Linked DNA regions of Homo sapiens. The protein of the gene in region 4 purifies or fractionates together with the protein of the main gene of each other region. This does not show direct contact. Each region holds a gene or a part of one and is shown on either strand. Other genes may lie near its edges. The genes, in order: ATP2B4, CCNYL1, INTS12 and TAS2R7.

Region 1 (7,830 bases), on a different chromosome or scaffold from region 4:
TGAGGGAGTAGGAGGGGAGGGTGAAAGGGATATCAAAGATGATTGTAATTCCCAGTCTGAGCTCAACAGTAAGGTTGGTGGCATCAGGCCGCAGCCCTCCTTTCTCTAGAGTGACAGTGACACATTTGCTCTTTGTTTTCTTTTGTGTGACTAGTGTGCCCTGTAGTATTTACACTGACTTCGGAAGCTTCCTGGAGGTCAGGAAATGGAGCCTGGGCTTTATCCACTCCCTCACTGTTTTCCCTCCCATCTTACCTCAGGGCATCGCAGGCACAGATGTAGCAAAGGAGGCTTCAGACATCATCCTAACAGATGACAACTTCACCAGCATTGTGAAGGCAGTGATGTGGGGACGAAATGTCTATGACAGCATCTCCAAGTTCCTGCAGTTCCAGCTCACTGTCAATGTGGTGGCCGTGATTGTAGCCTTCACTGGAGCCTGTATCACTCAGGTGAAGGGGGTGTGGGTGGGCTGAGACGGGAGGGATGAGTCAGGGGCTAAGGAACATGGAGTGAAGACTACGGTGTGTTTACTGAAGAGTAAAGACAGCGTTTCCCCATGACATTGGGACAGGAGTTAGCTCTTCTAAGTCTGCTGTCTTCATCTGCTTATGTAGATGGTAACTTACAGGCCTTAGCTTAGCACTTATGTGTCAGCCACTGTAATAAGCATTTATATGCACTATCTGTATTCTTCAAAAATGACCTTGTGAAGTAGGTATTATTATCCCCATTTTATGGGTGAGGAACTTGAGGCTCAAGGAAGTTAAGTAGCTTTCTCACAGTCACTCAGCTAGGAAGTGGCCAGATTCCAAGTCTAGGTGGGTCGTGGGAGCTGGGCCATCGACAGGGCAAAGGTGGGCTGGTTTCAGAGAAAAGCTAAAAGGACTGGTTCTTCTCCCCGCCAGGATTCCCCATTGAAAGCTGTGCAGATGTTGTGGGTTAATCTGATCATGGACACTTTTGCTTCATTGGCCCTGGCCACAGAGCCCCCTACGGAATCTCTGTTGAAGCGGCGCCCCTATGGCCGAAATAAGCCTCTGATCTCACGCACTATGATGAAGAACATCTTGGGCCATGCATTCTATCAGCTCATTGTCATCTTTATCCTTGTCTTTGCGGGTGAGCCACTTTGGGGGTGGGTAGCAGCTGGGGTCCTGGTTGGAGGTGGGGGCAGAGAAAGAAGGTAGCGTGAGAGCAAGTGCACAGGTCAGGAATAAGCGCAGCTTCACCTCCCAGTGCTTGCTGTGCTCCCGCTACACGGTGCATTATGCTACTATATGTACTCATACAGTACTCTTGAGTACAGTGTGTACTGTGTGTACTCAAGAATTTCACAAGGGAGGCTTTATTATTTCTTTCTTTCTTTTTTTTTTTTTTTTTTTCTTTTTGGAGACAGAGTCTCGCTCTGTCACCCAGGCTGGAGTGCAGTGGCGCTAACTCGGGTCACTGCAACGTCTGCCTCCCAGGTTCAAGTGATTTTCCTGCGTCAGCCTCCCAAATAGCTGGGATTACAGGCATGCGCCACCACACCCGGCTACTTTTTGTATTTTTAGTAGAGATGGGGTTTCATCATGTTGGCCAGGCTGGGCTCGATCTCCTGACCTTGTGATCTGCCCACCTCAGCCCCCCAGAGTGCTGGGATTACAGGCATGAGCCACCACGCCTGGCTTATTTCTTTTTTTACAGATTCAAAAAATTAACCTCAGGTCCCATAATGAGTACATAGTTGCAGTAAAATTCAAACCTATGATTGCCTGACTCCAGCGCACATAGTCTTACTACCATGCTGCACTACATGAGAGCAAGTATCAATGCAGCAAACTGAGAGAGAAGGTAAAATAAGTCAAGACCAGAACTAACATTTAAAATGTTTAATAACTAGTACAACAAAAAATTAGCCAGGCATGGTGGTGCACGCCTGTAGTCCCAGCTATTTGGGAGGCTGAGATGGAAGGATCACTTGAGCAGGAAGGTCCAGGCTGCAGTGAGCCATGATCATGCCACTGCGCTCCAGCCTGGGTGACAGAGTGAGACCCTGTGTCAAAAAAATAAATAACTAGTGCAGCTCAGATATTGATTAATTAGAATGGACACCAGCCATAAGCAAGCAGTATATCTGTACCAACACATTCTTACTCTTAGTTCAGACCACACTTAACCTCCAGTGCTTCTCCTCTCCCCACTAGGTGAGAAATTCTTTGATATTGATAGTGGGAGGAAGGCACCTCTACATTCACCACCCAGCCAGCACTATACCATTGTTTTTAACACCTTCGTGCTGATGCAGCTCTTCAATGAAATCAACTCCCGAAAGATCCATGGAGAGAAGAACGTCTTTTCAGGCATCTACCGCAACATTATCTTCTGCTCTGTAGTCTTGGGCACATTCATCTGCCAGGTGAGATTCTATCTGCAGTTGGGGCAGGAGATCTGGAATGATAAAGGGCAGAAGCTGGGAGCCAGGGTTCCCTACATACCTAGGAAAAGGAATGAAGGAATTACGGGGACTGGAGCTGTAAGTTGAACACTTTGGGATTCCCAATCTGCTTTCTTTTGCATATTGCTCTAGAATTGGAGCCCATTGTGTCAAGAGCTCCAGTGCAGGGCAGCATGTTGACTGGAAATAAAATAATACTTCTAAAATCCTTTCATGATCTTTCTAAATACACAGAAATTTCACAGAATGACCAAAAGAAGTATTCTCTTCTAGTCCCTTTCTATGGCTCCTGTCAGCCTATATGAAATGTGCATGCACATCTAGTATAGACTCTCCCTGTCCCTGCCCTTTGTTCTGAAGGGCTTATGATAAAAAGTGTTGTGCAACTCAAAGAAAGAGAAGTAATGGGATTTGTACATGTATATTACATAGTCAGCCCAGCTTGGACTCCTCCAATATGAGACTATGAGCTGATCATGTCCCATCCCTCAGCAGGGCACCTCCCTTTATTTGTCCCCATCCTCAATTCCTTTTTTTTTTTTTTTTTAATTTTAAAAATACAGATGGGGTCTCACTCTGTTGCTCAGGCTGGTCTCAAACTCCTGGCCTCAAGCAATCCTCCCGCCTCCCAAAGTGTTATTACGCCTGCCATTTTTTCTTTTTGTTTTTTTTTTTTTCGTTTGAGACAGATATCTCTCTCTCTCTCTCTCTCTCTCTCTCTCTCTCTCTCTCCCTCTGCCTCTCTCTCTCTCTCTCTTTTCCCCCCTCCCCCAGGGGGAGTGCAGCCTCAGTCTCCCAGGTTCAGGCAATCCTCCCACCTCATCCTCAGTTCCTAACTCCATCACTGTACCTTCTCCTTGTCACTAACTGGCTTTAGTCACAAGAAGCCACCAGCTCCCCTAACTCCTCCAGATTGTCTGTTAATCATAGTCACAGTAACTATGTCTGTCTCCCCATCAGAGTGCTCTTAAAGGCTGTTTTTGTCTGTCTCCCCTTTGAGATTTCTTCTTTTCCCTTCCCCTGCAAGCAAATCGGGACTTGTACCCAAGGATCCTGAGGAGTGGGATGATGTGGCTTTGGGGGCCTTGGCTGGAGGGCCAGCTGCCTGTTAGTCATTTCCTTGATGGTGGGCTGCCCCTTTCTCTGTTCTAGATTTTCATCGTGGAATTTGGGGGTAAACCCTTCAGTTGTACAAGCCTCAGCCTGTCTCAGTGGCTGTGGTGTCTCTTCATTGGGATTGGAGAACTTCTGTGGGGCCAGGTGAGTACCGGCACACCCTCCTGGTGCATTCTCACAGCCTGCAGAACTCCCCTCCTCTACATGAGATGGAACAAGCAACGGTGGAGACCCCCCAGCTCCTCATCTTCATCTTCTCCTCTTCCCTCCCCACCCCCACTCAAGTTTTCAAGTTCTTGCCATCTCATAGGATCTCAAGGTGGAATGATCACTTCAGAGGTTTCAGAATTCTTCTCTAACTAAGCCTGGAGGTAGAAAAATCCCTTAGCTTGGCTGGGCGCAGTGGCTCACACCTGTAATCCCAGCACTTTGGGAGGCCGAGGCAGGCAGATCACGAGGTCAGGAAATCAAGACCGTCCTGGCTAACATGGTGAAACCCCGTCTCTACTAAAAATACAAAAAATTAGCTGGGCATGGTGGCAGGTGCCTGTAGTCCCAGCTACTCGGGAGGCTGAGGCAGGAGAATGGCGTGAACCTGGGAGGTGGAGCTTGCAGTGAGCCGAGATTGCGCCACTGCACTCCAGCCTGGGCGACAGAGCAAGACTCAGTGTCAAAAAGAAAAAAAAAAGAAAAATCCCTTAGCTTCTCTGAGACAGAAACCAAACTTTTCAATGGAATTTTGCTACAAAAAAAAAATATATAATAAGGGTCTTAGAAGTAGAAGAGTTTACAAGACACATGTCTTTATTCTCATGAGGCAGCAACCTGGCTATGGGCTGTCGAGCTGACATAATTCAGGGTTTCCAGCCTCTTCTCTTTCTTGCCATGGCTTTATCTGGGTGGAATTCTTAACTCTTACCTGAGATAAATTCAGATTTACAAGATCTCTAGAGTAGCAGTATGGCCTGTGGTTCAGAGCATGGACTCTGGGAATGACTGCCTGGGTTTGAATCCAGCTCTCTGTTTTTTTTTTTTTTTTTTTTTTTTTCTGAGACAGAGTCTTGCTCTGTCACCCAGGCTGGAGTGCAGTTGTGTGATCTCGGCTCACTGCAAACTCTGCCTCCTGGGTTCAAGCAATTTCTCCTGCCTCAGCCTCCCAAGTAGCTGGGATTACAGGCAACCACCACCGCACCTGGCTAATTTTTGTATTTTTACTAGAGACGGAGTTTCACCTTGTTGGCTAGGCTGGTCTGGAACTCCTGACCTCGTGATCTGCCTGCCTTGGCCTCCCAAAGTGCTGGGATTACAGGTGTGAGCCACCGCACCTGGCCCAGCTCTTGTTGCCCAGGCTGGAGTGCAATGGTGCAATCTTGGCTCACTGCAACCTCCACCCTCCAGGTTCAAGCAATTCTCCTGCCTCAGCCTCCCAAGTAGCTGGGATTACAGGCACCCACCACCGCGCCCAGCTAATTTTTTGTATTTTTAGTAGAGACAGGGTTTCACCATGTTGGCTAGGCTGGTCTCAAACTCCTGATCTCAGGTGATCCACCCGCCATGGCCTCCGAAAGTGCTAGGATTACAGGCCTGAGCCACCGTGCCCAGCCTCAGCTCTCCTTTTTATAAGCTGAATCATCTTGGGCAAGTTACATAACCAATCTGTGTCTCAGTGTCTTCAGCTTAGGAAAACAAGGTCATTGTTAATTAGTGAATCAGTTACTATACAGTAATGAATAATGTCTTATTCCTTATAAATAATCAAATTTTAAACTATTACGATTATAATAGTATCATTAAGTCTAATAGTTTCACTTCTTCCTTAATACCACTTTACAAACCTCCCTCATCCTCAGCTCTGGCCTGGGCTATACCTCTCTTTACAGACCCCAGGTCTCTGCAGATAATCCCTTAGTGTCCAGCCACCCAGGTAATGGACACTTTGCCCTAACTGGCCTCAAAGAGCCATTTCTGGAGCTGCAGGCCTTCTCCCCTAAACCTGCTAGTTATTTATTTCATACCTAGATGCCTCCCTGAATAATTTCTTTTTCTTTTCTTTTCTTTTCTTTTTTTTTTTTTTTTTTTTTTAAGAGATGGGGGTCTCAGGCCAGGCGCAGTGGCTCACACCTATAATCCCAACACTTTGGGAGGCTGAGTCGAGCAGATCACCTGAGGTCAGGAGTTCGAGACCAGCCTGGCCAACATGGTGAAACCCTGTCTCTACTAAAAATACAAAAAAAAAAAAAAAAAATTGGCCGGGCATGGTGACACATGCCTGTAATCCCAGCTACTTGGGAGGCTGAAGCAGAATTGCTTGAACCCGGGAGGCGGAGTGCAATGAGCTGAGATCACGGCACTGCACTCCAGCCTGGATGACAAGAGTGAGACTCTATGTCGAAAAACAAAAAATAAAGAGATTGGGGTCTCACTATGTTGCCAGGCTGATCTCAAAGTCCTGGGCTCAAGCAATCCTCCTGCCTCGGCCTCCCGAAGTGCTGGGATTACAGGCATGAACCGCTGCACCCAGCCCTCCCTAATTAATGTCTGACCCAATTCCCTCCACCCTGTTCTGTTTGGTGAAGATTTCTTTTTTTTTTTTTTTACCAATGGGTTCCTAAAGCAGTTTTATGCTTTGGTAAAGCTTGGTTGTTAAACCTGTTGTTTGAAACTCTGTTCTGGCTCTTGCCTCACATGTGGCCATGTGGCCTTGCTGCCAGACAGCAGCCTTCCTTCTGTATCACAACAGCTTTTTCCACATTCAGAGGCAGAGCTCTGGCATTCTTCCCATTTCAAAACCCTTGACTCCATATCAGATTGCCCATACAGTCCCTCTTCCCCACATGAGCCCTGGCTACTCCTTATCTTGTCCGGAAAGAACTGACTGACAGGTGCTGAGCTCACCGGGAAATTTATTTCAAATTTCAAACCCTATGTACTGCTCCTTGTCTTCTGATAATACTCATGTGACCCCTCTTCTATGGACTGTCCCATCCACTTCCTCACCTCAAGCCCAAGAAAACTTTTGGTATCCTTTCACAAGAGTTTGTAACACAGAAACTACTTTGCATGTGGCAACTAAGAAAGGGGTCATTCATTTCCAATACCCTTCTCAACCCCTTGCCTATACATAGGCAATATCACCATCTTCTCCCCAAACTCTTTTCCCCCAGGTCCTGGTCTCTGTTTCTTCCTACTGCGTACCATGCTGTATAGTTCTGTTAACCTTAAAAGACAGATTGCAAAATGGAACAGAAGAAATGAGACAGAAAGAGGAAAATGAAGTATATGACCAGGCAGATGGCTGGTCAATTACTAGAATAGAAGCTCTCTTTTGTGTGTGTCCATAAATACAGAAAACCTTCCTAAAAGCCTGACCGCTGGTGGGCACTTGGAGAATGCTTGCCTGGATGGATTGGTGCTTCTGCCCACTGCTCTTCCAGTGGGAAGGGTGGTAGGGCAAAGAGTAACCTGCCCAAGGGCCTGGCTCATGTAAGTTGACTGACAGCTCTTCTCACGCTGATTCTGACGTCTTCCTCTTCGCTGCGCTTGTTTTCAGTTCATCTCCGCAATACCTACCCGATCCCTGAAGTTCCTGAAGGAGGCTGGGCATGGCACCACCAAAGAGGAGATCACCAAGGATGCCGAGGGACTGGATGAGATTGACCATGCTGAGATGGAGCTGCGCCGAGGCCAGATCCTCTGGTTCCGGGGCCTGAACCGTATCCAGACTCAGGTACTCTGATAGTGGTCTGTCCTTCCCTTGGGAGAAGCAGCTTCCCATCTTGGAAGGTGTTGGGAGGGTAGCAGTTCTTGTCGGCCAGCATCTCTTCCCTTCCAAAGGCTCACTACTGATGGGCAGCCCTAGATCCTCAGCTTCAGGACAGACACGCAAAAGGATCTGTGTGGGGTCCTCTGAGAGGAGAGGAGTCAAATGACCTAGACCATGGGACACTATTAGCATAGTCCTTTAGCTCTGGGTTGACCCTAAAGCCCAGCCTGCCACCCTCTATCAAATGGGCAAGCTTCAGCATAAGGTCTCTTGCAAGCACTAGACCTGACCCCAGGGTGGGAAATGCTCAGTTTTTCCCTACCCTTCAGAAGGAAGGAGTTAGACAATATCAATATGCCAACATACCCAGCATTCACTTAATATAGCTTCCTCACACTGCCATTATAGGAATAGATGCTATCTGGAAGGGTCTTTGTAAAAGAAACTCACCTTGTTATATCTCCCCCATTCAAAGTGTAAGGCCATGGTGGGGAATCTGATGGTTTCATGT
Region 2 (7,830 bases), on a different chromosome or scaffold from region 4:
CAGCCAAGGTCCTAAATCCTTGAGTTAAAAAACCACTCCACTTTGGCTAGAGTCCCTGGCTTCTTTTGAATTCAAAAGATTCTGATGTTTCTATAAGATTCAAAGTAGTTTTAAAGATTAACCTTGCTCAAACAAGTATAATAGATTTCATGCTTTTTTCCCCCCATTTTAGTCTTAATTTTTAGATGTCTACTTTTGGAAGTACAGTAAGTTTTAATTTGTTCTCAGTAAGTTTTAGAAATGATCATTTGGTATATTTCACTACTGGTTAAATAAAGGTTTCACAAGTATGGCAAATTGACTTTTAGGAAAGATTTTGAAAAATGTTTATCATGGCTTACTAGTGCGTTATTCTCATAGGTTGGGTGAGCCATATCAGAATCACTTACGCAACTTTTTTCAAAATATATGTCCACAAACAAATTCATCTCACCTCCACCTTCCCTTGATCTCTAGGCAGTCACAAGCCTTTTAGGAAAATGGAGAAGGCATGTGAGGCATAATTACACAGACAAGCACATCCCAGATGATTCTGGTCTTAACCCTAACTCAGTCATTCCCAAAATTTGCAGCACATTGGAATCATCACCAGGGGAACTTTAAAAACAACCCTCAGGCTGGGCGTGGTGACTGACACCTGTAATCCTAGCACTTTGGGAGGCCAAGGCGGGTAGATTGCCTGAGCTCAGGAGTTTGAGACCAGCCTGGGCAACACGGTGAAACCCCATTTCTAGTAAAATACAAAAAAATTAGCCAAGCGTGGTGGCGTGCACCTGTAATCCCAGCTACTTGGGAGGCTGAGACAGAATAGCTTGAATCCGGGAAGCGGAGGTTGCAGTGAGCCGAGATTGTGCCATTTTACTCCAGCCTGGGCGACAGAGCAAGACTCTGTCTCAAAAAAAAAACAAAACAAAACACACAAAAAGACAACAAAAAACACTCCTCATGCCCCAAGTCATACCCGATGCCAATTAAATCAGAATGTCTCAAGTTGGAAGTTAGGCAGTTTTTAAAGCTCCTCAGGTGATTGCAGTGTGCAGAAAGTTTGAGAACCACTGCTTAATTGAATGTAGGAGGATGAACTGCTTCTATTTGGTGGGACCTTGGGCAAGTCAGTTTTAAGCCTTGGTTCCCATATCTGTAAACTGGGTGTTGGATTAAATGTCATGTAAGGTTCCGTGGTCCTTTTCAGCATATAACTTCAAATTCTGTAATGTTAAAATCAATTTGGACATGAAAATGTTTGAAGCACTATAGAAGTATCCATCTTAGATGCTAATGTTACAGACTTTTTAAAAAAGTGCTAACATTGTATGGACTTAAAATTCAGATTTGCCTTCCCTCAATTATTTTGAGCCTCAGTTTAGAGACTGAGGGCAAATGGAAGCATATAACTTACCTAAGACAACTCCTTGTTTCCTGATACACAACATCTGTGGGTAATTTAGGAATACAGTAACATATATCTGAAAAGTCGTGTCTGTTCACTAATATTTTACTTAAACCAATGTGGAAATACTTGCCATTAATATTACACTTTGTAGTTTTATGCTGCATTGTTAGCACTGCTTATTTCAGGATAGCTACACCTATCATTGGTTTTGTGTGCACTTATTTACTAATAAATTTTCTACTAATGATGCAAAATTGATCATAAATGATTTTATTTGGTATAAAACACTTTTATTTACTTTAAGGGGAAATAATGAAAGATGGGTGGGTAGGTGATAGTTAATTAAATCAACTGAAATGCAGAGCCTAACAGCTTAAAAAGCAAAAAATAAAAATAACCAAAAAACCAAATAGTTTAAATTTAAGCATGTATACAAATAGGTAGAACTTGTATAAAATGAAAGGTTCTATGGGCAGAAGAGCAAATGGGGATATATGTAATTATTTATATATTATAATAGTCCACAGAAACATGTATTTTAACAGCATATTACTGGGTTTTTTTTTTTTTTTGAGACGGAGTCTCGCTCTGTCGCCCAGGCTGGAGTGCAGTGGCACGATCTCGGCTCACTGCAAGCTCTGCCTCCCGGGTTCACGCCATTCTCTTGCCTCAGCCTCCTGAGTAGCTGGGAATACAGGCGCCTGCTACCACGCCCGGCTAATTTTTTGTATTTTTAGTAGAGACGGGGTTTCACCGTGTTAGCCAGGATGGTCTCGATCTCCTGACCTCGTGATCCACCTGCCTCGGCCTCCCAAAGTGCTGGGATTACAGGCGTGAGCCACTGCGCCCGGCCTTACTTAGCATTTTGGTTCGTGTATTTTTGCTGAAAGGAACTAAAACAAGGGGAAAGTACCCATATGGTACTGTTCTGAACTAGAGGATTTCAGGGCCGCTAGGAGGGTTCCTCCCTTCCCTCATTTAAAAAATGTCTTCAGGCCTAACAAATGTTTAAATCAGTTGTTAAAAATAATTTTTTTTTCCCTTCACAGTGTGACCTTAGCAATATATTACCACATAAAGAACAGGTGAGCTCCTTTAAAACCTGTCTTGTTATTCCAGCTAATTACTTTGCATGATATCAAGTTCAGTATTAGGTCATAACTATAGACATCATAAGCTATAGATTGCTATTACAGTATTGAACTGAATCATTTGTGGTTTTTCTGGTCCCCAAGATGGTTTCAATTATTAAATTACTGAGGATCCCAAAGAGTATTTGTTTATGTTGGTTATATTGATATTTATTGCATTAGAAATTGAAGTTGAGAATTTAAAAAAAAAAACCCTATATTTAGTTTCAGTTTCTCAACGTTGGCACTGTTGATATTTTGAGCTACATAAGTCTTTGTTGTGGGGACTGTCCTGTGTATTGTAGGATATTTAACAGCTGTCCCAGGTTGTGACAACAAAAATATAACCCCTGACTGAGAATCATATTGTTAACATAAATAATATTTTTTCATGAAAAATAACTCTCTTCTACAACAACGAAGTTGAGTAAAATGTGTCATGTATTTATATATATACAACTCTCTAGTGTCCAGCTTAACAGAAAACAGCTGGATTCTCATCTCTGTCTTTGCAATTAGTTTTTTTTTTTAATTTCAACTTTTATTTTAGATACAGTGAGTACATGTGTAGGTGTATTACGTGGCTAATAGTGCACCCTGGTAGTGAGCTGTAATTTGTTTTGAAGAAGTGATAAGAAGATGACCTAGCCTCACGCAAATATATAGTTGGTAAAAGGTATATTTTTAAAGCTTTCAGATGGTTGTGGGTATTCTTTATTTTTTAGTTTATTTTTATTTGGTTTTTTTTGAGACGGAGTCTTGTCTGTTGCCCAGGCTGGAGTGCAGTGGCACGATCTCGGCTCACTGCAACCTCCACTTCCCAAGTTCAAGCGATTCTCCTGCCTCGGGCTCCCGAGTAGGTGGGGTTACAGGCGCATGCCACCACGCCTGGCTAATTTTTGTATTTTTAGTAGAGATGGAGTTTTGCCATGTTGACCAGGCTGGTCTTGAACTCCCGACCTCAGGTGATCCACCCGCCTCAGCCTCCCAAAGTGCTGGGATTACAGGCATGAGCCACCATACCCGGCCAGTATTCTTTAATACTACCCAACACTCCACAAGTGCTAGTTTCTTAAAATGGTTACAGTGGAATTTTGTGTTATCAATGAATTTTTTATTAGTACTCACCCATCTGTCTTGTACAATATATGTATCATTTCCCCTTACTTGGTTTTCTAATATTATGCATTGGTTATATGGAAAATATTGGTTCACATCTCTTCTTTCTTTTTTTTTTCTTTTTTTTGAGACAGAGTCTCATTCCATCACCCAGGCTGGAGTGCAGTGGTGCAGTCTCAGCTCACTGCAACCTCCGCCTCCCGGGTTCAAGCGATTCTCCTGTCTCAACCTCCCAAGTAGCTGAGATTACAAATACATACCACCATACCAGCTAATTTTTTGTATTTTTAGTAGAGACAGTGTTTCACCATGTTGCCCAGGCTGGTCTTGAATTCCTGAGCTCAAGCAATCCGCACACCTCAGCCTCCCAAAGTGCTAGGATTACAGGCGTGAGCCACCATACCCAGCCTGGTTCACATTTCTTGACAGTGGCAAAGCTCACTTTTGTTAGTATCACCACCAATTGTATTAAAAAATCTTTAAGTATTGAGAAGCTGTTAAACTCACATAATAAGGTACAAGTTTCTCCAAATCCTGATTTTTAGTTTGAAAGCTTGAATTTTATCATTGCAACAAATAGTGTTATTTTCTTGAAGTGACAGGCTTCATTTTTTTAAAACTTTTTATTTATTTATCTTTTGAGACTGAGTCTCACTCTGTTGCCCAGGCTGGAGGGCACTGGTGCCATCTTCGCTCACTGTAACCTCTGCCTTCCGGGTTCAAGTGATTCTCCTGCCTCAGCCTCCTGAGTAGCCGGGACTGCGGGCGCCTGTCACCATGCCTGGCTAATTTTTGTATTAGTAGAGATGGGGTTTCACCCTGTTGGCCAGGCTGGTCTCGAACTCCTGACCTCAAGTGATCCACCCGCCTCAGCCTCCCAAGGTGCTGGGATTATAGGCATGAGCCACCACACCTGGCCACTTCTTTCATTTTTGAGAATGACATTTGTACTTTCAAGTAAAAATGATATTCTGTGAAAAAAAAATGGCTTGTTTAGCTCACAATTAAATCACAAGTGCTTTTCCTTAACACAACTCTACCTCGGTATGCAGAATTACTTTATGTGAACTTTCTGCTTACTCCAGAATAGTGAAAAGAAAGGTCAAGATTTAATAATACCATTAATTTTTACTGCTTCAGCAAGGATATTCATGAGTGAAGCAGGTGTTTTTCTTAAACTGCAAGAGGCAGTAAAGAGTAGCATAACTTCTAGTATAATTTGGTAGCACTGCCTTGATTCATGCTGAGAAGCCAGCAGTTTGCCCACTTTTGCTGTTATACACTCATTACAAATGTCATACAGTCAAAAAGCAAGCAATACCTTAGTATTCTTTTTTTTTAAATTATTTTTATTTCTAAATTTTCAATCAGCTTTCTCAGGTTGAATAAGTATTCTTAAAAGAACAGTTTTGACCTCAAGGACCTCTTGGAAAAGGATCTAGAGGGTCTCCAGAAGTCCACAGACCACACTTGGAGAACCACTGGTTTTATTAAATGAGCACAATGTATTAGTTTTATAAACTTGTAAAGATTATCAAAGCCTTGTCTCTTTTAAAATAAAAAGACAATAAGGTTTTTAACTCATCAAACTACTTAAACAAATACATGTCAAGAATGTAATACGGAGAACTAGAAAGGAAAAGCCTGGGAAATCTGAATTTCATTCACAGTCATTAAAGTTCTAAAGAGTTTATTGCCCACCACTACTGCTGTGTAAAACGTTCTTGAGTTCCAATGAGGGGTTAGAAGAGTGAAAATATACTTTATTACCATTGCCTGTTAGGGAGGGCCAATACTTAAAGGCAATTCTGAATCGTCATTGTAGAAAAGACCTCACAGTACAGAACCTCATATGCTGAGTAAAAAGAGGTCAGGAAATCCTCTGAAGGCTGGCATCCCGGAGAAGAATTTGTACAACTCTTTGCTTTGGTGAAGCAAACACCAAAGCAAACAGGAGGCATCTCCCGCCACCCCCAGCAGACATTTTACTCAGATATTAACAATTCCTGAATTAACTTCTTCAATGCATATTCTTATTTTATAGAGATGCAAATAGATCCCTGGATATTTTTGATGAGAGATCACATCCACTTACAGTAAGTGTCACTTTTTTTGAGGTAGTATTTTTCTCTCATAGAGTTGTGTTTATTTCATGCTGATATTTATAAATAGTCCTAACAAATATACATGATCTCTATGAAGATAATTAGAAAACAATTTAAATTTAAATCAATTAAAATGGTGTAAACATTTAAAAATTCACTTCCTCAGGTATATGATAGCCGCTCGTGGCTAATGACTATTGTCTTGGACAGTGAAGCCTTTGAGCCTTATGGTTACAGGAAACTAAAGATATTTTTTCAGGCCGGGCACGGTGGCTCATGCCTGTAATCTCAGCACTTTGGGAGGCCGAGGCAGGCGGATCACGAGGTCAGGAGATCAAGACCATCCTGGCTAACACAGTGAAACCCCGTCTCTACTAAAAATACAAAAAATTAGCCGGGCACGGTGGCAGGCGCCTGTAGTCCCAGCTACTTGGGAGGCTGAGGCAGGAGAATGGCGTGAACGTGGAAGGCGGAGCTTGCAGTGAGCCAAGATCGCTCCACTGCACTCCAGCCTGGGCGACAGTGAGACTCCATCTCAAAAAAAAAAAATTTTTCAAAGTGTATTTAAGAGAATCCTAACATATGATTAGTAAGACTTTCGAGCCTACAAGTAGTTTACATTTTGATAGAATTCTGTGGATAGAAAGTGGAAAGGAACATAAAAATTTTCTGAGTTGTGCCTGTATTTTTCCTTAATGATAAATGGTGATGAGTATTGAATCACTATGATATTTTAAGATCCAATTGTTTATATTTTAAAAACTAAAAGTCATGTCACTCAACCAGAATTATTTTAAGGGGTACATGGGCTCAAACGTCAACACTGCTGGTCTTAGGAGTACTTAGGCCAGCTGGGCATGGTGGCTCACCCCTGTAATCCCAGCTCTTTGGGAGGCCGAGGTGGGCAGATCATGAGGTCAGGAGTTTGAGACCAGCCTGGCCAGCATGGTGAAACCCTGCCTCTGTTAAAAATACAAAAAATTAGCCGGACATGTTGGTGCACGCCTGTAATCCCAGCTACTCAGGAGGCTGAGGCAGGAGAATCACTTGAACCTGGGAGGTGGAGGTTGCAGTGAGCCGAGATTGTGCCACTGCATTCCAGCCTGGGCGACAGAGCAAGACTGGGTCTCAAAAAAAAAAAAAAAAGTACTTAGGCCGGGCGTGGTGTCTCACGCGTGTAATCCCAGCACTTTGGGAGGCCAAGGCAGGTGGATTGCCTGAGGTCAGGAGTTTGAGACCAGCCTGACCAACATGTTGAAACCCCGTCTCTACTAAAAATACAAAAACTAGCTGGGCGTGGTGGCGGGTGCCTGTAATCCTAGCTACTCAGGAGGCTGAGGCAGGAGAATCACTTAAACCCGGGGGGTAGAGGTTGCAGTGAGCCAAGATCATGCCATTGCACTCCAGCCTGGGCAGTAAGAGTGAAACTCAGTCTCAAAAAAAAAAAAAAAAAGCTTAAAATTTTTTTCTTCAGTGGATACTAACATTGCATCTTTTCTTCTTTCAGCGAGAAAAAGTTCCAGAGGAATACTTTAAGCATGATCCTGAGCACAAATTTATTTACAGATTTGTTCGTACTCTTTTTAGTGCTGCACAGCTAACAGCTGAATGTGCAATAGTAACTTTGGTAAGATATTTCTCATTTATAAAGTGTCTTTAGAAATTAGTCTTGTACACAGGGTATGGTCCTATTTTTCAAATAAAAATAGGTTCCTGAAATTATCATCAGAACTTTAAGAGAAACCTATGAAAGGAACATAAATACGTACATTCGCGTTTAATCATCATTATGGTTGAACATGTTTCCATTGCTTTTCTCATCACAGAACAGTTGCTACAAAAGGCAGCCGGGGAGATTTCTGGTTTCTCCCCCTACCCATCAATGCACATGTACACATTCAGTGTGTACACATACAAGGCATGGTGGCAGGGCTGGGGGTGATGGGGAGTGGTAACAAAACCATGTGGTTCAGAGCCAGATACTGATTCCAGTGTAGGTCTAAGCCAAGTCCCAGGCTCTATTCCCCAGGTATTTCCGATATGTGTGGTGATTGAGAACTATTGCCCTAAATTCTTTGTTCCT
Region 3 (7,830 bases), on a different chromosome or scaffold from region 4:
AACTCTGCCAGACAGGGGTTACAACAGTAGGCAAGACCAATCCACTGCCTGCCTTCATGGAACTTACATTCTAATGAGAAAGAAAGATTATTTACATAATTAACAGTGTGATTAATATTACAAATAAGTACAGAATGTTTTTGGGCTATGTAACAGTGAAACTTCTAGTTTTGTTGAGGGAATGTGCAGGAAAAACTGAAACTTGAGAGGTGACTTAAGATGGAGGTGGGGGTGGCACACTTTCTACTGAAGTGCTAAGGTAAGAAAGAGTATATTGGAGGACTTGAAATAAGTCAGATAGCTATAACAGAGAGAGTGAGAATGGCCTAAGATACTAGGTAACATTTAATGAGTGTCAACTATGTGTCAGGTACTGTTGTAACTGCTTTATATGTATTATTAATCATGTAGAGCAATGGTCCACAACCTTTTTGGCACCAGGGACCAGTTTCATTGAAGACATGGTTTCAGGATGATTCAAGTGCATTACATTTATTGTGCACTTTATTTCTCTTATTACTACATGGTAATATATAATAAAATAATTGGACAACTCACCATAATGTAGAATCAGTGGGAACCTTGAGCTTGCTTTCCTGCAGCTAGACGGTTTCATCTGGGGATGATGGGGTATACTGTGACAGATCATCAGGCATTAGATTCTCATGAGGAGCACACAACGTAGATCACACACATGCACAGTTCACATAGGATTCGCATTCCTATGAGAATCTAATTCCACCAGTGATGTGACAGGAGGCAGAGCTCAGGTAGTAATGCAAGTGATGGGAGTGGCTGTAAATACAAATGAAGCTTCCCTCGCTTGCCTACTGCTCACCTCCTGCTGCATGGCCTGAAGGTTAGGGACCCCTGATGTAGAGAATTGGAGACCTTGTTAAGAATCTTATTCTTGAACCTTTGGATTGTGAGAAGTGATAAAAGGATTTTAAGCAAGTGAGTGATATGAAAAGGTTTAAAGGGATGACAAGAGTGATTGTGGGAGACTGATTAAGCTTTTGCAGTGGGCCAGATAATAGATGATGCTAGGTTGGTCTAGGGTGGTAGTAGTAAGGATTGAAAAGGGTGGATAGATTTGAGGTATGTTTAAGAGGTTTGGTTATTGAATTGGGGGTGGGAATTAAGGAAGTGGGAAGAGTTAAAGCTGCTTCTGGGTTACTGGCTTGGGCAATAGGGTAAATATCATTTGAAAAAGGGATTACTAGAGGAAGAACTGGTTAGGAGAAAAGGGAATAGTGTATGAGTGGCTCTGTTGGAGACACGTTGCATAGGAGGCACCAATGATATATCCATGTCAAGCTGGCAGTTGGATCTTGGGAGAGACACATGGACTGCAGAGATGTATTAGTAATCACTGGCAAAAGACTATATAGATCAAATTGTCTAGGGCAATAATTCCCAAACTTTAGAGTAGATAGAATTGCCTGGAAGGCTTAACACAGATTTCTAGACCCTACTCCCAGAGTTTTTTCTTCAGTAGGCCTAGGAATGGAGACCAAGAGTTTGTATTTCTAAGTTCTGACGTGATACCTATGCTGCTGACTCAGAGAACACATTTTTGGAAGAAGATGTAGAACAAGTCAAGAAGAGACCCAGAACCTAGCACTGAGGAACTCATTTTTAATTGGATAGGAGGAACCTACAAAGATGACTGACAAAGAAGTAGGAGGGACAATCGTATGTATTAGGTTTACCTGACTGAGGCGGCGAATGACTCATGAGAGCATTTTCATGGAATAGTGGGACAAAGGCTGAATTGCAAGAATTGCTGTGTAAATAGAAGGAATGAAGAAAAAGAGTACAAAAGCATATGATTTCTGAGAACGTTTTGCTATAAAAGAGAAAAGATAGAAGATGTTTGAATATATTTAATGTCAATGAAAAGATGCCAGTAGAAAGGCTGAAAAAAAAAAAAAGAAGATATGGGAAATAATCCATAGGCCAAGGTTCAAGAGGGGACAAGAAGAGATAGGATCCAGATCCAGGTGACACTACATAGAGAGCTACCTTCTCCTTTTTTATCAGATGGGAAAGAGGAAAGGATGAGTGCAGGTAAGTTTGTAGATGTGCTGGAAGGAAGTCGACTTAATTCCTCTCTGACAGCCTCTCTTTGTGAAGTAGGTGAGGCCATCTACTGAAACACAGAAGCAATTTTAAAAGAAAATGGAGGAAGTATAACTGATCTTTGCAGAAAGTGGGGAAGTGAGTTGACCAGAGAAGGATGAGAGAATTGCCAAGTTGTACTGAACGCCAAGCTGAGAATGGTGATTCTGAAGATAGAATGTATGTATATTCCTCCCAGTTGCACTTAGAGTTTGGGTGCAGGCAGAGAGAGAATGGCTAGCAGGGTGGATGTCTATAAAGTAGGGAAACTACAGGGCTTTCGGGTGCCTAGAGTACTGAAAGAGGTATTGAAAGGGTGGACCACAGAATGTGAGCTGGATAGGAAGTAAACGGCATACTGCAATAAATCAAGGATAATAAGAGATACAGAAAAAAGATCATTGTTCAGTAATGGCGATTTTTGTGCTATATGCATTTGACACAGCTAATTCCCAGCATCACCTAAGAATTCACTCCTATCAATACTACTACTACCACTTCCCTAGGTCAGCGAAAGCTTTAAAGTGGTAAATATTAATTTTCTCACATTCTCCTTTTTGAAAGCAACATCTACTTTTTAAATGAAACCTACATTTAATATATTAAATATCTTTCATATATACATTTTTCTTTCATACACACACACAGGACTTTGTTTTCTAGAACTCTAATCCATAGTAAGAATGATATGGCTCTTTTGCAGTCTGTTTTGGCCATGGGTTTAGGAATGAATATACAGGAAAGGAATTGTATAGAAGTAACATGATTTGGTGTAACTCCAGGAAAATATTTTTGTATGTGTAGATCAACACAGTTACACCAAGTTGCTGACCTCTTTATGACTGCTGTAGAAAGTAAACTTCTTTCACTATATGGATATTTGCCGGTAAGGAAGGAAAAGTAACAGAGATTAGAGAAGGCAACAGAAAAGGGGGAGTAAAGGTAAGATAGAAAACTAAAATATAAAATATAAACCACATAACCATAAGTGTTTTATTTTAGGTTCAACTACTGTTTTCTGTTTGGTGAGGAAACAAAAGTCAGGGCAAGAGGGTGCCAATAAGGAGAAAGCAGAAGGGACAAGAAATTGGAGGCTTCTGTAACAAAGAACAAGTAGAATGGGAATAGAGAAATGAATAAATACAGAAGAAAGATTGACTTGGCACTTTGAAGAGGTCCCTGGATTAAGGCAGTGGAAGAGATAGAGTAATGGAAGATTGTAGTCAGAAAGGAGAATTGATTGTAATAAAAGAGGACAATAGTTGTGGCAAGTTTCAGATTTCACTGGCTGAAGATAAAGCTCCTTGAGGTTAAAGATCAATTATATAACACACTATTATCACTCTGTATATGAATAGATTTTTAAAAAATAAATAGAAATAGAAATAAATTGGCTGGGCGCGGTGGCTCACGCCTGTAATCCCAGCACTTTGGGAGGCCGAGGCGGGTGGATCACAAGGTCAGGAGATCGAGACCATCCTGGCTAACATGATGAAACCCCGTCTGTACTAAAAAATACAAAAAATTAGCCGGGTGTGGTGGCGGGCGCCTGTAGTCCCAGCTACTCGGGAGGCTGAGGCAGGAGAATGGCATGAACCCGTGAGGCGGAGCTTGCCATGAGCCGAGATCATGCCACTGCACTCCAGCCTGGGCGACAGAGCGAGACTCTGTCTCAAAAAAAAAAAAAAAAAAAAAAAGAAATAGAAATAAATTAAAAAGTTAATATTTTTTTCTCTGTATTCCACCATGGGGACCACTGGGTCAAAGGGCCATGTTAGTAATTTAGGGGAGGGGTACAAAGCCTGTTAAGTTTTATAATGGCAAGATTGCATAAAAAGAACTGACTCCAAGGTTCCAACTGGAATGTTGGTGTTGATGACTTCCGCAGTCTTGTAATCTAGGTGCTGACTCTTGTCACCTAATCTGTAATGTAAACCTCTTACCTGTGATTGTAGAAATACATAGCAATAAATACTTGGCTTTCATTTTTCAGCATAGAAATTTCAAGAAATGGTTTTTCTAATATATTACAAGGGTTCTTTTAGGTGTCAACCCTTTGGTCAGCACCCAATAAAATAAATTGTTTTATAACAATCTGGATAAGTAAACTGCTATTTCCTTTACCTATATGAAATAAAATCAGTAGAAAGATTAGTAAACTGTCACAGGAGTGGAATTTAAAGAAAAAAAAGAGATTAGGCTGTTACCCTTGTATATGCTGGGGGAATGGCAGGTTTACCCTTTTAATCTTGGAAATTTTATTAAGGAGCTATTTTTTCCTCAGAACGTACATGGTGACCAGCCCCATGAGTAAATTTTAAAATAATTTTTCTGTACCTATCATTATGTAGAGGTGATGTATATAATAATATAATTTTAAGAAGTGACAGAGGCTGCTTTTCAATTTTGTTAAATTCTTAGAAATACAACAGTTTGAGATAAGGTTACTTTTTCATTATAGTACTGGCCTTTGGATTCCTTTCCATGGGTGATTCAGATGATATTTTAGTACAGTACAGAATTCGACAGTAATTTTGTAGTTATCAGGTAGATAACTAATACCTTCCTGGGAACTTAAAAAAAAAAAAAAAAAAGCCTAGGGATGTGTATGTGTGTTTCTTGTCAGATGTGGAGAAGGATGAGGAGTGAAGCTGGAGGGGAGGGGACAACAAAATCCATTTTCAGATGTGCTTTCATATGCTAGGATTCAACCTACAGCAAGTTTTAATGGTGTTATAAACCCCTGAAAATGGGAGATAACTGTGGAATTGCTGACAGTTCCCTAACTATAGCAATGCAAGTGTGCTGCATTAATACAATATTAACCTCAAGGATAGAAGATTTCAAGCCATAGTATATTGATCAAAGGATTGAACACAAAGAATACATTTTTATTTTGATAATTTCTTGCCTGGAGAGGTCTTTGAAAAAGTGACAACCAGAAGCAGAACCACATGATAGCATTGGTATTAACTAAAAACAAAACTTTTTAGTATTGTGGAATTTCATAAGCCTTTGATGTATATCTTTATCCATCTTGGCTATTTTTTAAGCTCTTTAGGACACAAAGCATCATAGGCTCTGTGTGTGTGTGTGTGTGTGTGTGTGTGTGTGTGTGTGTTTTAAGTAGATATGATATTATCCCTCAGAGACCTTACTTTTAAAAATAGGTTAATGCATGAGATACCACAATCTAAATGTGATCAAATAAGGTTATCATTAATATGTTTTCTGAGACATTTAGGGTTGGGGCAGAGAACTGAAGAGGTGAGTTTAGAAAAAAAAAAAAAAAGAGTTGAGGTAAAAGTGGCAGCAGTGACCATGATAGCTAATCACTTAATATACCTTTTCACCATTGCCCTCTTACGATAGCCCTTACACACACAAACACCTGCACACTAAGTCTTCCCTTGTGTTATGGAAATAAGGTTTGAGAGAAGAAATTTTGATACAGAGTAAACTTGACGTAAACCCATCAAGTTCTATGTACTGAAACTGCGAAGTGTATCTTTTAAAACACAGTTAGGAAGGAGTTCTGTGGCAGGGAGAGGCCTACCTGGATTTAAAACGTTACCATCGATATGGATACACAGAAAACTGATACTGCTAGTTGTTTCAGGGGGAAGGAACTAGATAATGCCTGTCAGGAATAAGAAGGAAATTTACTTTTATTTGTAATAACTTTTTGGTGATTTTAAATTTTATATCATGTGTACAGTATTATCTATTACAAATTAAAAAACAGAAAAGTAAAACTTTAACATAGATAATTGTGCATTGTCTTCTAGATTACTTTCTCTTTTTTTCCTTCAGGCGTTTGCAATGGCTGCTACTGTGAACTTGGAACTTGATCCCATTTTTTTGAAAGCACTAGGTTTCTTGCATTCAAAGAGTAAAGATTCTGCTGAAAAGCTAAAAGCACTGCTTGATGAATCTTTGGCTCGGGGCATTGATTCCAGTTACCGTCCATCTCAAAAGGTACTTGAATGAATAAAAAGCTTGGAGAGAGTTTTGTAAGGCCTGTAGTACTACATTGATAACATATAGACCATCTCAAAACAATCTCTGCCGAAATAATCTTTCCTTGTAGCATGAAGAAATTATATTCTTTATTTTCTTTTTTCCCTTCAAGTTTTCAGAGAACTGTTACACCACATAGAAAAATCAGCTGGGGGTGCAGGATATTCTGTTCTACTACTTTATGTGTATATGAATTCACTTGTTTACGACTTACTTTAATTTCCGATTCTTTGTGATCAGAATTTTTTTTAAGCTGCTGAATGTAACCACAACTTACTTCTAATTATTGCCTAATATTTTAAGGATTAAAAAAAATCAAGTAAAAGGACAGATCTTTCAACAAAATAAATTGAATATGGGTAGGATAATTTAAGAGAAAAGGAGGTATGGATGAACTCTGAGAACTGTGTAGCTCCTGTCTTGATAATAACAAAGCAGCCAATGGCAGCTTTATGTGAAAAGAATATATGTTTTGATACCAAACACACCTGTTTTAAATCCCACTTAAATCTTATAATTGTGTGATGATAATAGACAACGTATCTTGATGTCCCAGGCACTTTTCTGAGTAGTTTATGTGAATAATTAATTTTAATTATGATAATGATCCTTTAAGATAGATAACTGTTTTCTTCATTTTACATAAGGAAACTGAGGTACATAGAAACTTCATTTCACTTAGTCTGTTTATTGGTAAAATGGGGATAATAAGAACTACTTTGCAGAGTTGTAAAAATTGAAGGAGATCCAGTAAATGAGTTACCTAGTGTAGTACCTGCCTGGTACATAATAGGCTGTCACTGAATGACAACTCTTATTATATTCCCTAATACCTACTAAGACATTCTATCAAATCCTTCTAAGCTCTGACCCTCAAACTCCAAATCACTCAGGTCTGTGGACTTAGATCCCAAACTGAGAAGGAGAAAATAGAACATGACTAGCTCAAGTCTAACCAGAATCTGAAGCTCAAGAGAGGATCTAGTCCCAGGCTCAGAGCCCAAGTAAACACTGGCATTTTGTCCCCAGCCTTCTTTCAATACTAGGTCTAGTACTCCGAAGCCTTTTTATTGTATTTTGAATAGCAGAACCATTGTGACTTCATTTCTTCTATCCATTCTCATTGCAGTAGGTTCAGTGAGTTCAGATCGACCAAATCAATATGGCTCTACAAAACATACTACCAAATTCATTCCACTGTGGGTGTTGGTATTGTCCAGATAGGGAAACCTATTATTACTAAAGAAAAAAAATTGTTTTAATGGGGTTCTAAAATGGAAGTTTATCTCTTAAAGAACATGAAAAATTTGTTGTGATTAAAAAGCACGCTGCCCTTAGGTTTCTAGCTAGAGTTCATTTCTCTTGATCAGTTTTCAGAAACTACTTTGTTATAGGTTTTTAAAGCCCAGGTCCATTTAATTTTAGCCTTCAGCTGAATATTTTCATCACTAGATTTGTGTAAGAAGAGTGATTTATGCCAGTGTTTCTCAAACTTTAGCATGGATAAGAATCACCTGGAGGTAATGCTTACTAACATTACCAGGTCTCCAAGTGTATTCTAACATGAATATTGGTTGATATTCATTTACATTAATGAGGAAGGCAAATGTGAAATAATGGAGTTAAAACTTAACTCATCCGTCAACAACTAGAACAACTTTTTTGCTGAATTAGGTAATAGTTTAATAC
Region 4 (6,973 bases):
ATGCTTATTATACAAGAGACAGTGATTCAGGAAATGAATTGTCTTCAAGGGTATTTGTCACATTAAAAAAAAACTAAAGATAACAAATCTTTACCTGGCATATTTCACTTCTGAGGAACAATTGAAAAGAAAGCAAATTCTTAGTAAATATTATCATGTGCCTGCCTAAAAAAAAGTCATTTCTAATTAGATTTGTATTATATCCTTCCCTAATTAGCCGTTTAAATGAAGACAAGAATTATTATCCTCTGACTAAATGTTAAATATCTACAATCTAATTGTACTAATTACTTCCAAAGTGAAAATTTCTTTGCATCTGGGAGAACTGATTTGTGGCTTATTTATAACTTACATGATGAAAATGAAGTTTTATTTACACAGTTGGGTTTTTATTAAACATTTATCTCTTTTTTTATGACTCCCTATTCAAAACTCAATTTGAAGATCCAAATATAGAGCTACAGCAAGAAGCCTGTTGCAAATTCATGATATAAAATCTCTTTGAATTTGCATGGGAGCAATTTCAGCCAAACATTTCAGGTATCACTCACTAAAGGATAATAATTATAATTTTTCCAGGCTATAAATAACTAGTCAAGCTGCTCATTAGTTGGTTTCATCTTCAGGAGTGTAGAGACAATCCTATTTCAGAGGAGAGCTGAACACTTCCGGAAGAATAACAACGTCGAAATAACAGCAGATGAAAACATTATTGCATGATTCGAAGAATTGATCTATCATGCTTTAACAGGTCACCTGTAAATTAGCTCATCTACAGTGATATTTGAAATCAGATTGTTCTCTCTACAAACATGTTCAGTCCTGCAGATAACATCTTTATAATCCTAATAACTGGAGAATTCATACTAGGAATATTGGGGAATGGATACATTGCACTAGTCAACTGGATTGACTGGATTAAGAAGAAAAAGATTTCCACAGTTGACTACATCCTTACCAATTTAGTTATCGCCAGAATTTGTTTGATCAGTGTAATGGTTGTAAATGGCATTGTAATAGTACTGAACCCAGATGTTTATACAAAAAATAAACAACAGATAGTCATTTTTACCTTCTGGACATTTGCCAACTACTTAAATATGTGGATTACCACCTGCCTTAATGTCTTCTATTTTCTGAAGATAGCCAGTTCCTCTCATCCACTTTTTCTCTGGCTGAAGTGGAAAATTGATATGGTGGTGCACTGGATCCTGCTGGGATGCTTTGCCATTTCCTTGTTGGTCAGCCTTATAGCAGCAATAGTACTGAGTTGTGATTATAGGTTTCATGCAATTGCCAAACATAAAAGAAACATTACTGAAATGTTCCATGTGAGTAAAATACCATACTTTGAACCCTTGACTCTCTTTAACCTGTTTGCAATTGTCCCATTTATTGTGTCACTGATATCATTTTTCCTTTTAGTAAGATCTTTATGGAGACATACCAAGCAAATAAAACTCTATGCTACCGGCAGTAGAGACCCCAGCACAGAAGTTCATGTGAGAGCCATTAAAACTATGACTTCATTTATCTTCTTTTTTTTCCTATACTATATTTCTTCTATTTTGATGACCTTTAGCTATCTTATGACAAAATACAAGTTAGCTGTGGAGTTTGGAGAGATTGCAGCAATTCTCTACCCCTTGGGTCACTCACTTATTTTAATTGTTTTAAATAATAAACTGAGGCAGACATTTGTCAGAATGCTGACATGTAGAAAAATTGCCTGCATGATATGAAATCTTAGCTGTATAAATGGAATTTAAAACCAAATCTTCTCTAACAAAAAATATAGTTTTCTTAATAGTCTATTCTCATTTTTCCCCAGTTATCTCATTTATTTTGGATGCATATCTTTAAATATTATTAGGACCTAGTAGCAAACTACTGAATACATCTTTTCTATCCCTTTACAACTCAGAAATGCTCATCTTTACACTCCCTTTCCTCGAAGAATTTCAGAGCTCATGCTTCTCTTCTTGTCTCCTCAACGCAAGTGTTAGGCCTGTATTGCCTAGTTAAAGTCTTTTTAGATTTTACTTTGGCTCATGGTAAAGTGGACCTGAGCTACAGTAACTGGTTTCTCATTTTTCTTTGTCATACATTTTTATTGCCGCTCCTTAATTGTGCTCCTTTCATGGCTCTGCTGAGTCACCCCCATTTGGCTTATTGATTAGGAACTCAGATGTTCTCTGGTCTGTCTTTGGTTTTCCCGAATGATGATTTCCATGGTCTCCTAGGTAATATTTTCTGGTTGACCTTATTCTGATGATTTCTATTGATTTTCCTTGGAATTAAATTTCCTCTCAAACAACTTGCTTTTCATGCAGCACCTAGGTGGGAATCGAACCCATTCAAGTGCCACCCACCAAGGGGTGTTCCTAAGCCCTCTTCACAATCTGGATAAAAGAATGGGGATAACAAATATTAGTCAGACTGCTCAATCAGGTTCTTTTCTCTAACCAGACCCTGCAAAGGTTTTCACTCAGGACTTAACAAAAGAAATAAATTGGGAAGAAAATAGCGTATACCATGGAATAAGCACATACTGTCCCTGGAAGAAGAAACGAATGTTTACAAAAAATACAGATAAATTTTTATTAAAAAAAAAAGGAAAATAAGTCACTAAAATTTTTAATTTTTCTGTGAACATGAAATCCATCCTCACTATAATATTATTGAAACGTTTGGTCTGGCATATCTCAGGTTGTGTATGTACTAATATGGCTGTACATTATTGCTTTTACTCCCATTACTTTCTGTTTAATTCTGATGTATTTCAATCTACTAATTTCCTTTTATTATAACTAAAATACTAATTACCGGAAAATTATCAGTTGTTTGTCTTATTATTATGTAAAACTCACTCTGTAAAGTACTAATATTTATAGCCCCAAGTATATAAATTTTATGAACTATATTTCTAATATGCTAGCTGTATATGTTACTCTTTGTTTTACAAGACACAAGAATTCATGTTCTCTTGATGAAATATATTAATGTATTCTACAAAATACAGGTAGATTTTATACTAGGATGAACTTTATATTTTTCCTAAGGTTTAAGTGAAATAAACGTTTTATTGAATTAGTACTTTTGGGAAGGTTTTACCCCATTAGGGTTAAGTTTTTTTCTTCCATATTTTGTTTCCTGCCTCTCTAATGTTTCAAGCATCTCTAGTGACCACAGTGACTGGGGTTCAAAGTAGTAAGCTTTTGACAAAATGCTCTCTCATAGAACTTTTTTTTTAACTATATATTCACATAACTTCACGCTATACAACATTGGTATTCATAAAATCTACATTTATTTCCAAAACTAAACAAAAACAAGTCTAAAAATTATTTGAGAAAATACATCATCATAGTTCCCATGAGCACTTCATTTACCAGGATAAACTGTAGGGTAAAAATGATGAGTCTAGGCCAGGCACAGTGGCTCACACCTGTAATCCCAGAACTTTGGGAGGCCAAGGCACACGGATCGCCTGAGGTCGGGAGTTCAAGACCAGCCTGACCAACATGGAGAAACCCGGAATCTACTAAAAATACAAAATTAGCCAGGCATGGTTGCACCTGCCTGTAATCCCAGCTACTTGGCAGGCTCAGGCAGGAGAATCACTTGAACCTGGGAGATGGAGGTTGCGGTGAGCCAAAATAGCACTCCAGCCTGAGCAACAAGAACGAAATTCCATCTCAAAAAAAAAACAAAAGAAATGATAAGTCTAGGTCAGGGATCATATCCAAGATCGTCCTATCATAGGTGATGTTCCAGTTGCCTGTGAACATGGCTACATAATCATACAGATTGTCCAAAAGTTAAGGCTACATCTCCGGAATGATGGTTTGTCCTTTAAGGAAGGATAAGAGAAGACATGCATTCCCAGGAAGGTGTGAATACCCAAGAACTATTCTATGGAACCCCATGTAGTAAAGCGCTTCTCAGTAACTCTAAATTAGAGAAGCTATTTCAAACTAAAAATTCATCTCTAGAGATGTGGAAAGTTTAATCTTCAGTCTCCTGCTAGAAGGGTTGAGGATCTAGATACTCATGCAATTTGTATGGAGGACAGTGGAGAGAATGAAATACAGAATTTTACTATCTCCTCTCTCATGCATACAACTACCCTTGAGAACATTTTTTAAATTTTTGAAATCTTTATGAAAGTATAATTGGTATAAAAAGAACCGCATATATTTAATGTATAAAATTTCAAACACCCATGATATCTTCACCACAAACAAGGTAATGGACATATCTAATACCTCTCAAAGTTTCCTTGAGAACATTTTAAGTGAAAATGAAAAATTTAAGGTAATCAATAGTCTTTTTTTATTACAGGTCCTCTACCTTATTATATATAACATTGCTAAATAACCATTAAAAGTCATTTAGTCAGTAAGACAATGTGTTGTATTAAGAGACACTATGCCATGTAATTGTTCATCTGAACAGCCAAAATAATGACCTAAAGTTTCTTTGGAATCAAATAACCTACATTTAGTGTTAACTTTTTAAAGTTCCTGAAAATATATAACTCTCACTATGGAACCAAACTTTGGATTCTTTACTAATTATCAATATTAACATTCAGCAAAATAAAAATTCTTCAAGAACTTTCCAATTTTACCAGTTTTATACTTGCTACCAAATTCTTGATGTTCAGGTTGCCAGAATGGAACACTCAATCTAATTTGAACTTCAGTACTTCCTGAAAGCACTGATCTTAAGTAATCAGGGACATACACTAAAAAATTATTGATTTTTTTACCTGTAATTCAAGTTTAACTGAGTGTCCTGAATTTTTAGTCGCTAAATCTAGCAACCCTATTGAGGTTACTAGCATACATCACAAATTAATGAATCCAAAATGCGTACACCTTAGCCTCAGAAAGACAATGCAGGACCATGAAAGGGAATTGGCCCAATTTGCATCTTAGTAAACAGTAGCTCAGCCTAAATTAACCGTATGTGGAAAATTACAACCTGCTGAGTAGGTAAATGGGCATACAGTGGCCAGGCCAAGGATCGCCAAACACATTGTTTGTCAAGACTAATTAGGATTTAATGAAGATAGCTCCAGTCTTCATTTATCATTCCAGTCTCCATCACAAAACAGACTACAACAAAGAGGTAAAGAAAACTACATCAAAATCTAAGAAGCAGGTGTGGATGTCAAACTCCATCAGGTCAACTAGAAACTAATTGCATATTTAAACATGGCAGATAAAGTGCAGACTACTTTATTGTTCTTAGCAGTTGGAGAGTTTTCAGTGGGGATCTTAGGGAATGCATTCATTGGATTGGTAAACTGCATGGACTGGGTCAAGAAGAGGAAAATTGCCTCCATTGATTTAATCCTCACAAGTCTGGCCATATCCAGAATTTGTCTATTGTGCGTAATACTATTAGATTGTTTTATATTGGTGCTATATCCAGATGTCTATGCCACTGGTAAAGAAATGAGAATCATTGACTTCTTCTGGACACTAACCAATCATTTAAGTATCTGGTTTGCAACCTGCCTCAGCATTTACTATTTCTTCAAGATAGGTAATTTCTTTCACCCACTTTTCCTCTGGATGAAGTGGAGAATTGACAGGGTGATTTCCTGGATTCTACTGGGGTGCGTGGTTCTCTCTGTGTTTATTAGCCTTCCAGCCACTGAGAATTTGAACGCTGATTTCAGGTTTTGTGTGAAGGCAAAGAGGAAAACAAACTTAACTTGGAGTTGCAGAGTAAATAAAACTCAACATGCTTCTACCAAGTTATTTCTCAACCTGGCAACGCTGCTCCCCTTTTGTGTGTGCCTAATGTCCTTTTTCCTCTTGATCCTCTCCCTGCGGAGACATATCAGGCGAATGCAGCTCAGTGCCACAGGGTGCAGAGACCCCAGCACAGAAGCCCATGTGAGAGCCCTGAAAGCTGTCATTTCCTTCCTTCTCCTCTTTATTGCCTACTATTTGTCCTTTCTCATTGCCACCTCCAGCTACTTTATGCCAGAGACGGAATTAGCTGTGATTTTTGGTGAGTCCATAGCTCTAATCTACCCCTCAAGTCATTCATTTATCCTAATACTGGGGAACAATAAATTAAGACATGCATCTCTAAAGGTGATTTGGAAAGTAATGTCTATTCTAAAAGGAAGAAAATTCCAACAACATAAACAAATCTGAAGAGAAACTATGCTTTTCTAGGACAAACAAAGATAAGATGTTTCTAAATTAACTTCAGTTCTTGCATTAATGTTTTATGTGATTAATTACTCCTAAAACTTAATTAGTGTATCTGTAATTGTAATGTAGGGAATCTTATGTACAGCTGGCTGGATCTCTTTATCTCTGTCTCTGTTTCTGACTCTGTCTGTGTATCCCTGTTTCTCTCTTCTGTAACTCTTCCTTTCTTTAGAGTTGCTGTTTTTTAAAACATGTTTCAGAGCAAATAGAAATTAATATCCTAATATCAACTATCAAGAGTAGAGGGCATTTTCATAGTTCTAAACCGTGTTTCCAGATGCAAAGTTGTGTGACTAATTCAAAACAACTGTAACAGCATCTTGCTGTTATTTGCATCTTTATGAAAAGCAACTAGTTCCTTCTCATAGTCCGCGTTAGATGGTTCCTCTTGGATCATCCAACAAAGCTCTACTTTTGGGAAAGACTCAATAAAGTGACAGTTCTTAATAAATGCTGTGGAATTCTATGAATAATCTTATAATCACAGAAAAGGTATATATTATGGCTAAATATATTGTCACAGTAAGTTCAAAGATTATTTGAGAATTGCAGATCAATGAATGAAGGACAATCTATAAGTAAAAGTGAGAAAAATTATGTAGAAAATGTCTATAAAATAAGAAGCCTAAATTGAACTATTAATTATTTATTGAAGAAAATTTCTCCACAAAAGACGTATGTCCACGGACTGCACCAGGCAATGATTATCAAGATGCTGTGACAAGACATTCAAT

What was found.
Region 1: the proteins of TAS2R7 (region 4) and ATP2B4 purify together in Homo sapiens (affinity purification with mass spectrometry; 3 studies listed by BioGRID and IntAct, with this or other methods). This does not show direct contact.
Region 2: the proteins of TAS2R7 (region 4) and CCNYL1 purify together in Homo sapiens (affinity purification with mass spectrometry; 3 studies listed by BioGRID and IntAct, with this or other methods). This does not show direct contact.
Region 3: the proteins of TAS2R7 (region 4) and INTS12 purify together in Homo sapiens (affinity purification with mass spectrometry; 3 studies listed by BioGRID and IntAct, with this or other methods). This does not show direct contact.

What each region holds. Positions count from the first base shown.
Region 1 is NC_000001.11:203,720,289-203,728,118, forward strand, and holds part of ATP2B4 (plasma membrane calcium-transporting ATPase 4), read left to right. Parts: intron 1-260; coding exon 261-452; intron 453-908; coding exon 909-1,122; intron 1,123-2,189; coding exon 2,190-2,401; intron 2,402-3,592; coding exon 3,593-3,700; intron 3,701-7,106; coding exon 7,107-7,283; intron 7,284-7,830. UniProt on the Homo sapiens protein: Calcium/calmodulin-regulated and magnesium-dependent enzyme that catalyzes the hydrolysis of ATP coupled with the transport of calcium out of the cell. By regulating sperm cell calcium homeostasis, may play a role in sperm motility.
Region 2 is NC_000002.12:207,734,969-207,742,798, forward strand, and holds part of CCNYL1 (cyclin-Y-like protein 1), read left to right. Parts: intron 1-2,442; coding exon 2,443-2,478; intron 2,479-5,686; coding exon 5,687-5,738; intron 5,739-7,254; coding exon 7,255-7,374; intron 7,375-7,830. UniProt on the Homo sapiens protein: Key regulator of Wnt signaling implicated in various biological processes including male fertility, embryonic neurogenesis and cortex development. Activates the cyclin-dependent kinase CDK16, and promotes sperm maturation.
Region 3 is NC_000004.12:105,698,119-105,705,948, reverse strand, and holds part of INTS12 (integrator complex subunit 12), read left to right. Parts: exon of another isoform or gene 1-70; intron 71-558; exon of another isoform or gene 559-635; intron 636-2,139; 5' UTR 2,140-2,301; intron 2,302-2,925; exon of another isoform or gene 2,926-3,063; intron 3,064-5,677; exon of another isoform or gene 5,678-5,934; 5' UTR 5,935-5,943; coding exon 5,944-6,099; intron 6,100-7,830. UniProt on the Homo sapiens protein: Component of the integrator complex, a multiprotein complex that terminates RNA polymerase II (Pol II) transcription in the promoter-proximal region of genes.
Region 4 is NC_000012.12:10,800,820-10,807,792, reverse strand, and holds TAS2R7 (taste receptor type 2 member 7), read left to right. Parts: upstream 1-5,165; 5' UTR 5,166-5,222; coding exon 5,223-6,179; 3' UTR 6,180-6,261; downstream 6,262-6,973. Other genes in the region: TAS2R8 (taste receptor type 2 member 8), read left to right, coding at 813-1,742.